2 separate regions of the Homo sapiens genome follow, and region 2 is linked to region 1. Evidence: fine-mapped expression QTL. A gene starts in region 1. The other region holds a variant in brackets. All regions are shown on one strand. Distances are from middle to middle.

Evidence for each region. PIP is the estimated chance that this variant, and not a neighbour inherited with it, causes the effect.
Region 2: its variant is fine-mapped to the expression of RDH14 in sun-exposed skin (GTEx, PIP 0.90).

What each region holds. Positions count from the first base shown.
Region 1 is chr2:18,558,780-18,563,122 of GRCh38, forward strand. RDH14 (retinol dehydrogenase 14) reads right to left here and starts at 1,874. Exons shown (of 2, transcript NM_020905.4): 1 at 1,401-1,874. The coding sequence starts at 1,793. The region is part of intron 10 of NT5C1B-RDH14 (NT5C1B-RDH14 readthrough); the gene reads right to left. It overlaps NT5C1B (5'-nucleotidase, cytosolic IB), which reads right to left. Exons shown (of 9, transcript NM_033253.4): 9 at 4,092-4,343. It overlaps LOC105373456 (a long non-coding RNA gene), which reads left to right and starts at 1,397. Exons shown (of 6, transcript XR_007086234.1): 1 at 1,397-1,912. RefSeq lists enhancers at 1,034-1,083, 1,894-1,943, 2,004-2,053, 2,064-2,283 and a silencer at 1,294-1,803.
Region 2 is chr2:18,520,792-18,525,179 of GRCh38, forward strand. It overlaps LOC105373454 (a long non-coding RNA gene), which reads left to right. Exons shown (of 8, transcript XR_001739302.1): 8 at 551-4,388. Among named protein-coding and RNA genes, the nearest start is that of RDH14, 38 kb to the right of the region's middle. The variant T/TCTGCCATGACAAGAA (reference allele first, on the strand shown) is at 2,207.

The DNA of each region.
Region 1 (4,343 bases):
GTAAATTGTATTCAGTAAAAGGCTAATCAAAGACCCAAAAGAATGCAACCTTTTGTCTCCCATCTACCTATGACCTGGAAGCCCCCACTTCGAGTTGTCCCACTTTTCCAGGAGAACCAATGTATACCTTACATATGTGATTGATGTCTCATGTCTCCCTAAAATGTATAAAACCAAGCTGTGCCCCGACCACCTTGGGCACATGTCCTCAGGACCGCCTGAGGTTCTGCCACGGGTGCATCCTTAACCTTGGCAAAATAAACTTTCTAAATAAATGAACTGGGAAATATTTCTGGCCTAAGGGCATCATGAAAAAATTACTGAGAAAATTTGGGAACCTCTTCTCTAGACTCAAGAGACTCTACGTCATATAGGCACCTTTCTTGTCCCAGCTAATTTTAAATTTCACTCTTCTGAACAAATGCCCTCTGAATGCCAGTTATCCCTGCAAGAAACTCTTCTACCTCAATCTCAACGGAGAACATCCACTTATGTGGAATTACTTACCATTTGCACAAAGAAATCCTCACACCTCACTGCCAGGCAGCAGGAGGAAAGAACAAGGGTTAAAAGCAAGTGTTCTGGAGACAGACCACAAGCAAGTTTCTTAGCCTTCCTATGCCTCAGTTTCCTCGCGTTGTAAAACAGGGATGATAATAATGCCTACTCCACAGGGTTACTGTGTAGCTTCAATGACAGTTATAGGCAAGGACACTTCATTTTCATTTAAGACAAAAAGGAAAATCTGAAATGCTTGGCACAGCTCCTGGCATACAGATCTTCAATAATGCTGGGTGTTATTTTTATTCCTGTCTCTGTATGGAGCATGACCACTGGGTTCCAAAATGTATTCTACTTGGAAATCAGGCCACAGTCCCGTTAAGGATGGTGCTGAGTTTACTGGTGGCAGCGAGCTCCTTACCCCAGCAGAAAAGGGGCAGAGGCCGGGGGAAGGAGAACTTTTTTTAAAGGACTGATATGAGGTCCTTAGCTAGCAACTTCCCCCAGTGCTCAGGGGTTCTGAAGACACAGCTTGGTGCAAATTCACTTCTGACACAGGAAAAACAATTCAGAGGCCATGGATCTACTTCGGGGCGGTCCTCACGTAACGAAATGAAACGTTCAGAAACTGGTTTATTTATTTTTCTCTTGGGCCCATTTCTTTTTCGACATCCTTAGAGGACAGAAGGCAGCCCTCCCAGTTAGTTTCTCTTTCCCTCTCAACCCTGCAGCTTCCCGGCCGCCTCAAAGTGGCTTTTTGGACTCCTCTCAGCCTCAGCGGTTCCCAAGGTGACACCCTGAACCCCAGGGCGGTCCCTCGCGGCTCAGCCCCAGCCCGCAGTCCCCTCCCACACCGTGCCCAGGCCCTCCCCACCAGCCCGGCCCCCCGAGGCCCACACCTGGAGCATTTCCTGGCAGAAGGCGCGCACCGAGCGCAGCGAGGCGAGGTCCAGCTCCCGGACTATGAGCTCGCCCACCCCGCTGACGCCAGGCTCTGGGCCGCACTCCGCGGCCTGGCGGAGCTCGCGGCGGAGCTGACCCGCCGCCTCCTCGGCGCGCGCGCGGTCCCGGCAGCCCATGATCACCCGCGCTCCCAGGCGCAGTAGCTCGGCGGCCGTGGCGCGGCCCAGGCCGCTGTTCGCCCCGGTGATCAGCACAGTCTTCCCGTGCATGAGGCCGGGGTCCCCGCCTCTGCGCAGCCGCTGGACCCTGGGCCCCACGAACCGGCGGGCCGCCAGCCACAGCGCCCCGCCCAGAGCGGCCAGTACTGCCGCCGCAGTGGCCACTGCCATCGTCAGGCCCGAGGGCCCACCGGCCCCTCCACGGGAGTTCCGCAGCCGCCGCCTTACCGGAACCCAAGAGACCACCTGTACGCGGAGAACGCTGGGGCGCGGCGGGTCGGCCCCTGACGGTGCGCGTGGGGCATGCTGGGACTTGTAGTTTCCCTCTGGGGGGGTCGCCTGATTGGTTGTGAGAGTTCAGCGCCCTGGGTCCTGCGCCCTCCGTGGAAGCTCCTCCCAGCCTAATGATGGAGGCTGGGCAACCAGCACAGTGTTCAGGGTGCTGGGGTTCATACGTATTGAAATCCCAGAGTAGTGGCGGACTTCCCCATGGGAATGTCTGATGAGTACTTTGAATCACAGATCTCTGTACAGGCCCTGTTACAAATGCCACTCCTCAGGGCATTTCGTGTGTTTTCCTTTGAGGGCTCTTGGGACTTGTAAATTCAGTTCAATTCACCTTCTGAGGAATGGGCCCTGACAAGCTGAAGTCTGAGGTAGGACTGTTTTTCATAGATGAGACAAAGAATTAAGCAACATGAATCAGTTGGAAATAGAATGGTCGAGTAGTTCTCAAACTTAAATGCACATCAGAATCACCTGGAGGACTTGGGGTGGGGGTTCGGGGTGGGGGAATGAAACAAAACGAAAACAAAAAACCAGGGCCCCAGTATTAGAGTTTCTAATTCAATAGGTACAGGATGGGGCCTGATAATTTGCACTTTTAACAAGTTTCCAGGTGCTGCTGCTGCTGCAGATCTGGGAACCACACTTTGAGAACCACTGAACAAGACATTATGTCATTGGTCCCTATTAAAAAAAAGAAAGCCATCTTCAAATGATCTTCACACTGGCAGAGGTACAGTGGGAAAAGCTTGGACTTATTGTAAATATAGGCTTCTGAGCAGGCCATTTACAAATGCCTCCCTGCCCTCTCCATAGGACTATTACACACAACGATGGAAGGCAAAGTGCTTGGCTCACTGTAAAATGCCTCATTAATATCAGGGTTAGTGTCACAGGGACCCTTCTTCAAGCTACAAACTTCATAGCTGTAGACCAAGCTACTTTTAAAGACTCATTCGTTCGTCTGCCTCTCCATCCAATATGTGCCTGGCCCTGCCTGTTCCCTGTTAGAGCCACAGAGAAATGGGACACCATTTCTGCTCTCAGGGTGCTTACTTTCTGGAACTGTGATCTCCCACTTCCCACCCTCCACCCATTGCAGGTTCTCCAGACAAGGAAAAAGAACCACAGCTTGTGTCGTTTGAGACAAACTCCCCAATAATTGTGATAATCCATCTTCCACTCCCTTACATTTGGGAAGGATGTAACATGCAACTAATAGTCAGAATACAAAGAAAAAGGGATGGATTCCAGGAGGTTTCTTATGAGTAATGAGAATGGAGCTCAGAGGTGGGAAAGAGCACTCTTACTGGGGATTATACAAGGCACCAGGAACAGGAATCATGAGAGGTGGTCCTACACCACCCTATCCCCAATTTGAAGCTGCTACTCAAACTCATTGATCCCCCAGCATATGTTTCCACTTTATTGTCCTTTCTACCCATCCACATCTTGCCCATCCATCAAAATCACAGGCTACCTCAAGTCTTTCTTTCCTGACCACTTCCAGCCTATAAAGATCTCTGCTCCCTTCATGTGTGACCCTCAGGGTCATGTGTGACCCTCACTGGCACTGAAGACAAACAGCCTTCTAGTATTGGCTGTTTGAGTTTGCACATTTGACTTCCTTGACCAGATTGTTAAGGTTTCAAGTTTCCTAGAGGATAGGATTGTGTCTGCGTACCTCTTGTGGTCTTTGCATGGGAGGACACCTACAAAATGGTAGGTACTCAGTGTCACATGTCACAACTGATATATTTTGGACTGGTTTACATAAAATTAGGGAGCATCAGAAGATGTGTTTCAGCTGTGGTCTTCTCTCATCTAGAGCCAGGGGTGGAATACATATGTACAGGTGGAGTAGAGATGAAGGTGGAGGTAGAGAGAGCAGGAGAGGGTAGGAGGAAAAGAGGAGGGAGGAATCCTTAGACCTGCAGTGTAACTGCTGTGTAGTTTATGCATGGAACTTAATGAAATGATTAATCTGTACCAGATGGGTCCAAAGGCCATGAAATTAATAACTCTATTTGGAAGGGAGGAAAGAGACCTCATTATAACTTATGAAGTAAGATTTGAATTTGAATCTAATTAGTCTTAACACTTATTAGCTCCATATCCTTAAACAAGCTGTCTAATCTTTTTGAATCTTAGGCTCCTCATTGATAAAAAGGAAGGTAATAATAATACTATGTCACAAACATTTAATTTGATAAGAAAATGAAGTAACATGTGAAAATAACCAGGTCACTGTGCCTAACATATGATATATTTAATGACCAACCAATTTTTGTTGAAAACAAAACAAAAATCATGAGAGAATGACAATGAAGGGCCAGGATACTACACTTCATGTCACTTTTTGAAGTGGTAGCGTAGGGTCTTTTTTTTTTTTTTCCATACAAATATGGATGTGCCAGCCTGCCAGGCCCAAAGCCG
Region 2 (4,388 bases), 38 kb before region 1:
CAGTCCTTTCCTTCCTGAGCTTTCAGGCCCTGGATGGCATACCTATGGATCAAAGCCAGGTGGGGCAGGGAGAACCCCCAGACCCTTTCACGAGGGACCCTTTCTCCTCCAGTGTCTTCAGTGAGAACTTCCCTCTGGGCCAGCCTGCCCATGCACGCTGTGGAAAGGGAGAGAAGGCCCTGCCTCATTTGGAAATCCTGAGTTTGCAATGTGCTGGTTTACTTGCAATTCTCATGTTCAGAGAATGGGCCCCTTCCTTGGCTAACTTCACACCTGAGAACATGTCGGGGCATCCCTGCGGACCCAGTGTCTGCTTCACATTTCAAAGGCTGGGAACTGTTAAGCTTGTATTTTGATTAAAATTTTGTATTAGCGCCCCCCCCCTTCAATGTAATTTCAGGATATTTAATTTCAACCAATCATCTGAAGGAAAGTGGGGGGAGGAGGTATCTGATGTGAAACAGCACACGGGGAAAGCCAGCCAAGTTAGAAAATAGAGCAGCTCGGGGCTGTGTCGATGTGACAACTGAAGTCTCTTTTGTTCTCTCAGGCAGGGTCTGAAACCAAAGCCCCTCAAGGACAGGAGATCTACCTCTGGGCTTGGAATCAAGAGGACCAGTCGTTCCGGGAGGCCTCCCTGCTACCTTTGGGGCCTTTGGCAAGTCCCTGAAAGTTTCCAGGTTTCAGCCACCTATTTGGGCTCTGGGGAGAGGAATGCCTACCATTTGCCTCTGGCTCTGGGATTTTAAAAGGAAAAGCAGCAGAGTCTTTGGAAAAACCAATCTCTGAAGACCCAGGGTGAACATTAGTTACAACACCCTAGCTTCGAGGTGATGTAAACTTCAGGTACGGAGGTTACGCTCAGAGGAATAAAGGAGCATTCGTCAAACATGAGCTCCCCTCGATTGTGGTCTAGGGTGGAGACCAGTTATTCAAGTGTCTGTGGGCCCAGGCAGGTAATGAAAATGTAGTTATGGGGGAACGCCCGGCTCAGAACAGGCGTAGAGTAAATAGTTGTTGTTGACTGACTGAAGGAATAAAAGTGGGTCTGATATAAGACAATAGGGAATGGTACAAACCTTGTCAAACTGGAAGGTACATGACTTGAATTTGATGTTCAAACTATTGCTTTTTAAAACACTAGTTTAAACATCTTCTGGCCCTAGAGCTACCAATTTGTATCTCTGTATCCACTTTTATATATTTTAGGCCCATTTAAAAGACCAGGAAAGGAGGAAAATAAATCTAGCAGTATAGGACGTTCTTAATCTTGTCAGTTAACCCTAATTTTAACACCCCATCTCTGTTTGTCATTCTACTTAACCACTTTGGATTAAGCAAATTCAGTCACTTTGGAAATAGTACGTGTGGATGGTACCTTACAGGATGAAGGACCATAACAATATTCTCTAGCGCAGGCCTCTACCTCCACAGGGGGACAGACTGATGAGCCAGATCAACTCCTGCATCCTCTTCCTCAAGGAAAGCCCCCATCAATAAAACCACAAGGTTACAGTGGAGCCAGAGGGAGAGCTGGCCTGAGTTGAGACCTCCTCATGGAACTCATGGCTTCAGTTTCCTAAAATGGGGATTGTACTCCCCTAGCTCTCCTTGCTTCACAGAGCTGTTTGTGACAACTCATGAGTAATGTTATGTGAAAGGGCTTCACACACTGCAGTGTGCTGAATAAATGTAAAGAGTCCATGCTATCCAATTTGGAGACAGAAATTAGAGGACTCCTCCTCACACTAGTTAAGTACATCTCTTAAATTGCTTGGACTGTTGGCGTGGTTCTCGCCAGAGTTGAATATAATTCCTCTGTTGATGGGTCAGCCTTTATTTCCCCCAGTGCTGTTTCTTACTTGAGTTAATGAGTCCAAAGCTCATGTTTGCATGCTACCTCTGACCCTCACTAAGTGCTCACCTGCAGCTCTGCCCTGTCCTCAGAATGATGTGACCCTCAGGGCCAAACACTCCACAGGCTGCACTCTGCCACCTCCAAATCCCCACCAGTGGGTCCAATTCTCAGTCATCTGCTTGTTGTATTTCTGTTGTTTCTGTATTCATGTCAAGGATATTTGGCTGCAGAATTCCTGCAATATATTTTAGGTGAATGTGCAGCATGATCTTATTCTGGAGTCCAGGAGACTCCACCTAGGATTGCTCACAAGTAGGTCAAGTGGAGGGGGTGGCTAAGGCCAGTTTT[T/TCTGCCATGACAAGAA]CTGCTTGCTATGCTGGTGCAGGCAGAGGCTTTAGAGTTATGTTTCCAATAAAAGGCATAGATTTTCACTGCCTGATGATCAAAGTCAAACTCCTAAGCCTGGAATTTGAGGCTCTCAAAATCTGGCAATATCATTTTTTCCTTCTTCTCTTCTAGTTTCTTCTGTGCACCACAGGCCTCATGCACCAGGGTGCACCCCCTTCCATGTACATATTCCACATTTTCACACATCAAGCATGCATATGTACAATTTATACATACAGTTTCCTCTGATTCTTTTTTGTCCTTAAATGTCTGCCTGCTATCATCATGACCATTTTTAGGGAGAAATGCTTACCCGTACCTCCTATTTCCACAGAGAGGAGAGGCAAAGTCGAGAGTTTCACCACTCTCTTTAGGAGGAGAAAAGATGGAGGAACATTCCCAGCCCCTGACTCCATCTTTGACTCGCTCTTCCTAGGAGAAGAGGAGTAACTGGGATCAGAACCTGAGCATACCCAGCTCAGCTCCACCATCCCTCCGTCTTCAGGGCTCCTCCTGCCTGCAGATCAAGGGCTTCTTGCCTGGCTCCCACTTACTTTCTCCCTGTGGTTGCCGTCTAGAGGCAGTCATGAAGCCCCGTGCTCAGGGCAAGTCCCTCCACGGGGGCAGGACTGGCATGAAGGAGTAATGCCCTCTGTAGTGGGAAGGGTGAGAACGTCTGCCTGGGACTGGCCCTGCCCTCATAAGGGTTTATACTGCAAAGGCAGGGGAAAGAGGCCTGTTCTCCAATCCAGAGTTACCAACTGATAGTTTGAGTTTCTTCCTTCTGGCCCTAGTGCCCATACTGAATTGACTCTGAATCCTCAGAGGAAGAGAGAAATTATTTATGTCCTAAAACCTCAACAGCTAAATGTCACATCTTCAAAGACGTTTCAGACCTTCCTTGTCAGGTGTGATCATTCCTTCTCTTTTTCCTCTTCGCGTGTTTCCTGTAGAACTCCAGTTGTGCTTCATTTGCTCATTCTTTAGTTCGACACATATTTACAGGTGAAGACCTGGGATTTCCTTGCATTTAGGATGTGACGAAAAATCACATTTTTTAAGTTGCGTTTTTTTCAGAAAATCCAAGTCTTCACATTAGTATGGTATAATTAGAACAGAATTGGACAGAAGGCTTGGATTTAGGTCTCAGATTGAGACCTGCAAGATACTGAGAGCTTCTGAGATTACAGGAATGCTGCTAGGTGCTTTTTGATACAGAATCTTGAAATTGTTGGTTTCCTACATTATTTTCTTTTTGGAATGAAGACCACTAAAACTCTAAGACAAAGTGAACAAATGATAGCAAAAATAACAGTAAGGAAACCATGATCAGCTCGGGGTCATGTCACCAATAGTTGGCTGGGTCAGGGGTCAGACCCAAGACTCTTGACTCTGAATCCTCTATTCATTCTTTCTGCCTTCTCTCACACTCTCTGTGACTCTTGCAGTCCCTCTGCAGAGATAAGAGTAACCCATGAAACAGATCTGTAGCAACATAAGGCAATAAATGATAAATGCCAAAATAATTCCTCCTGGCTATGAGTAAACTAAGGATTCCATGAAGGGCGAATCCCCATGGCCGTGGAGATTCATGGCAGCCTTCCTGGAAAAGGCAGGATTGAATTGAACCCTGGCAGGAGAATTCTTGGGTAGGGATAGAGGACTGGGAAGAACATTCTAGGCAGAGGATCTCATAGAAACAAAGGAGCACAGGCCAGATAGAGCAAGAGAAATCCAGGACACAATGAATTTACCAGCCTGGCCTGACCCAAGGTTGGTATCTGGATAAGGATAACATGGGAGGTAAGGCTAGAAAAGACGATTAGGTCTTTACTTGAGAGGATAGTGGTTTTCAATTTAGGAAGAACCACAGTCTCACCATTTTGAAAATGCCTATACCAGTCCCCAGACCTGCTGAATCAGACAGGATTTGGGGGAATGAGTTGGAACAATTATTATTTTTCAGTCCTCTATATGTGATTCTAATGCTCAGTGAAGGCCGAAAATCACCAAGAAAGGAAGAAAGCCCATCAAGCATACACAGAGCCCTATATTTCCATCCAGTCGTCCTAGGGTTCCTCTCTGGCTTTCCATCTGTAACACTGAGTTGGGGCAAACTACTCTCTATACCCCATTTTTCTAATTTTTAAGATTGAAA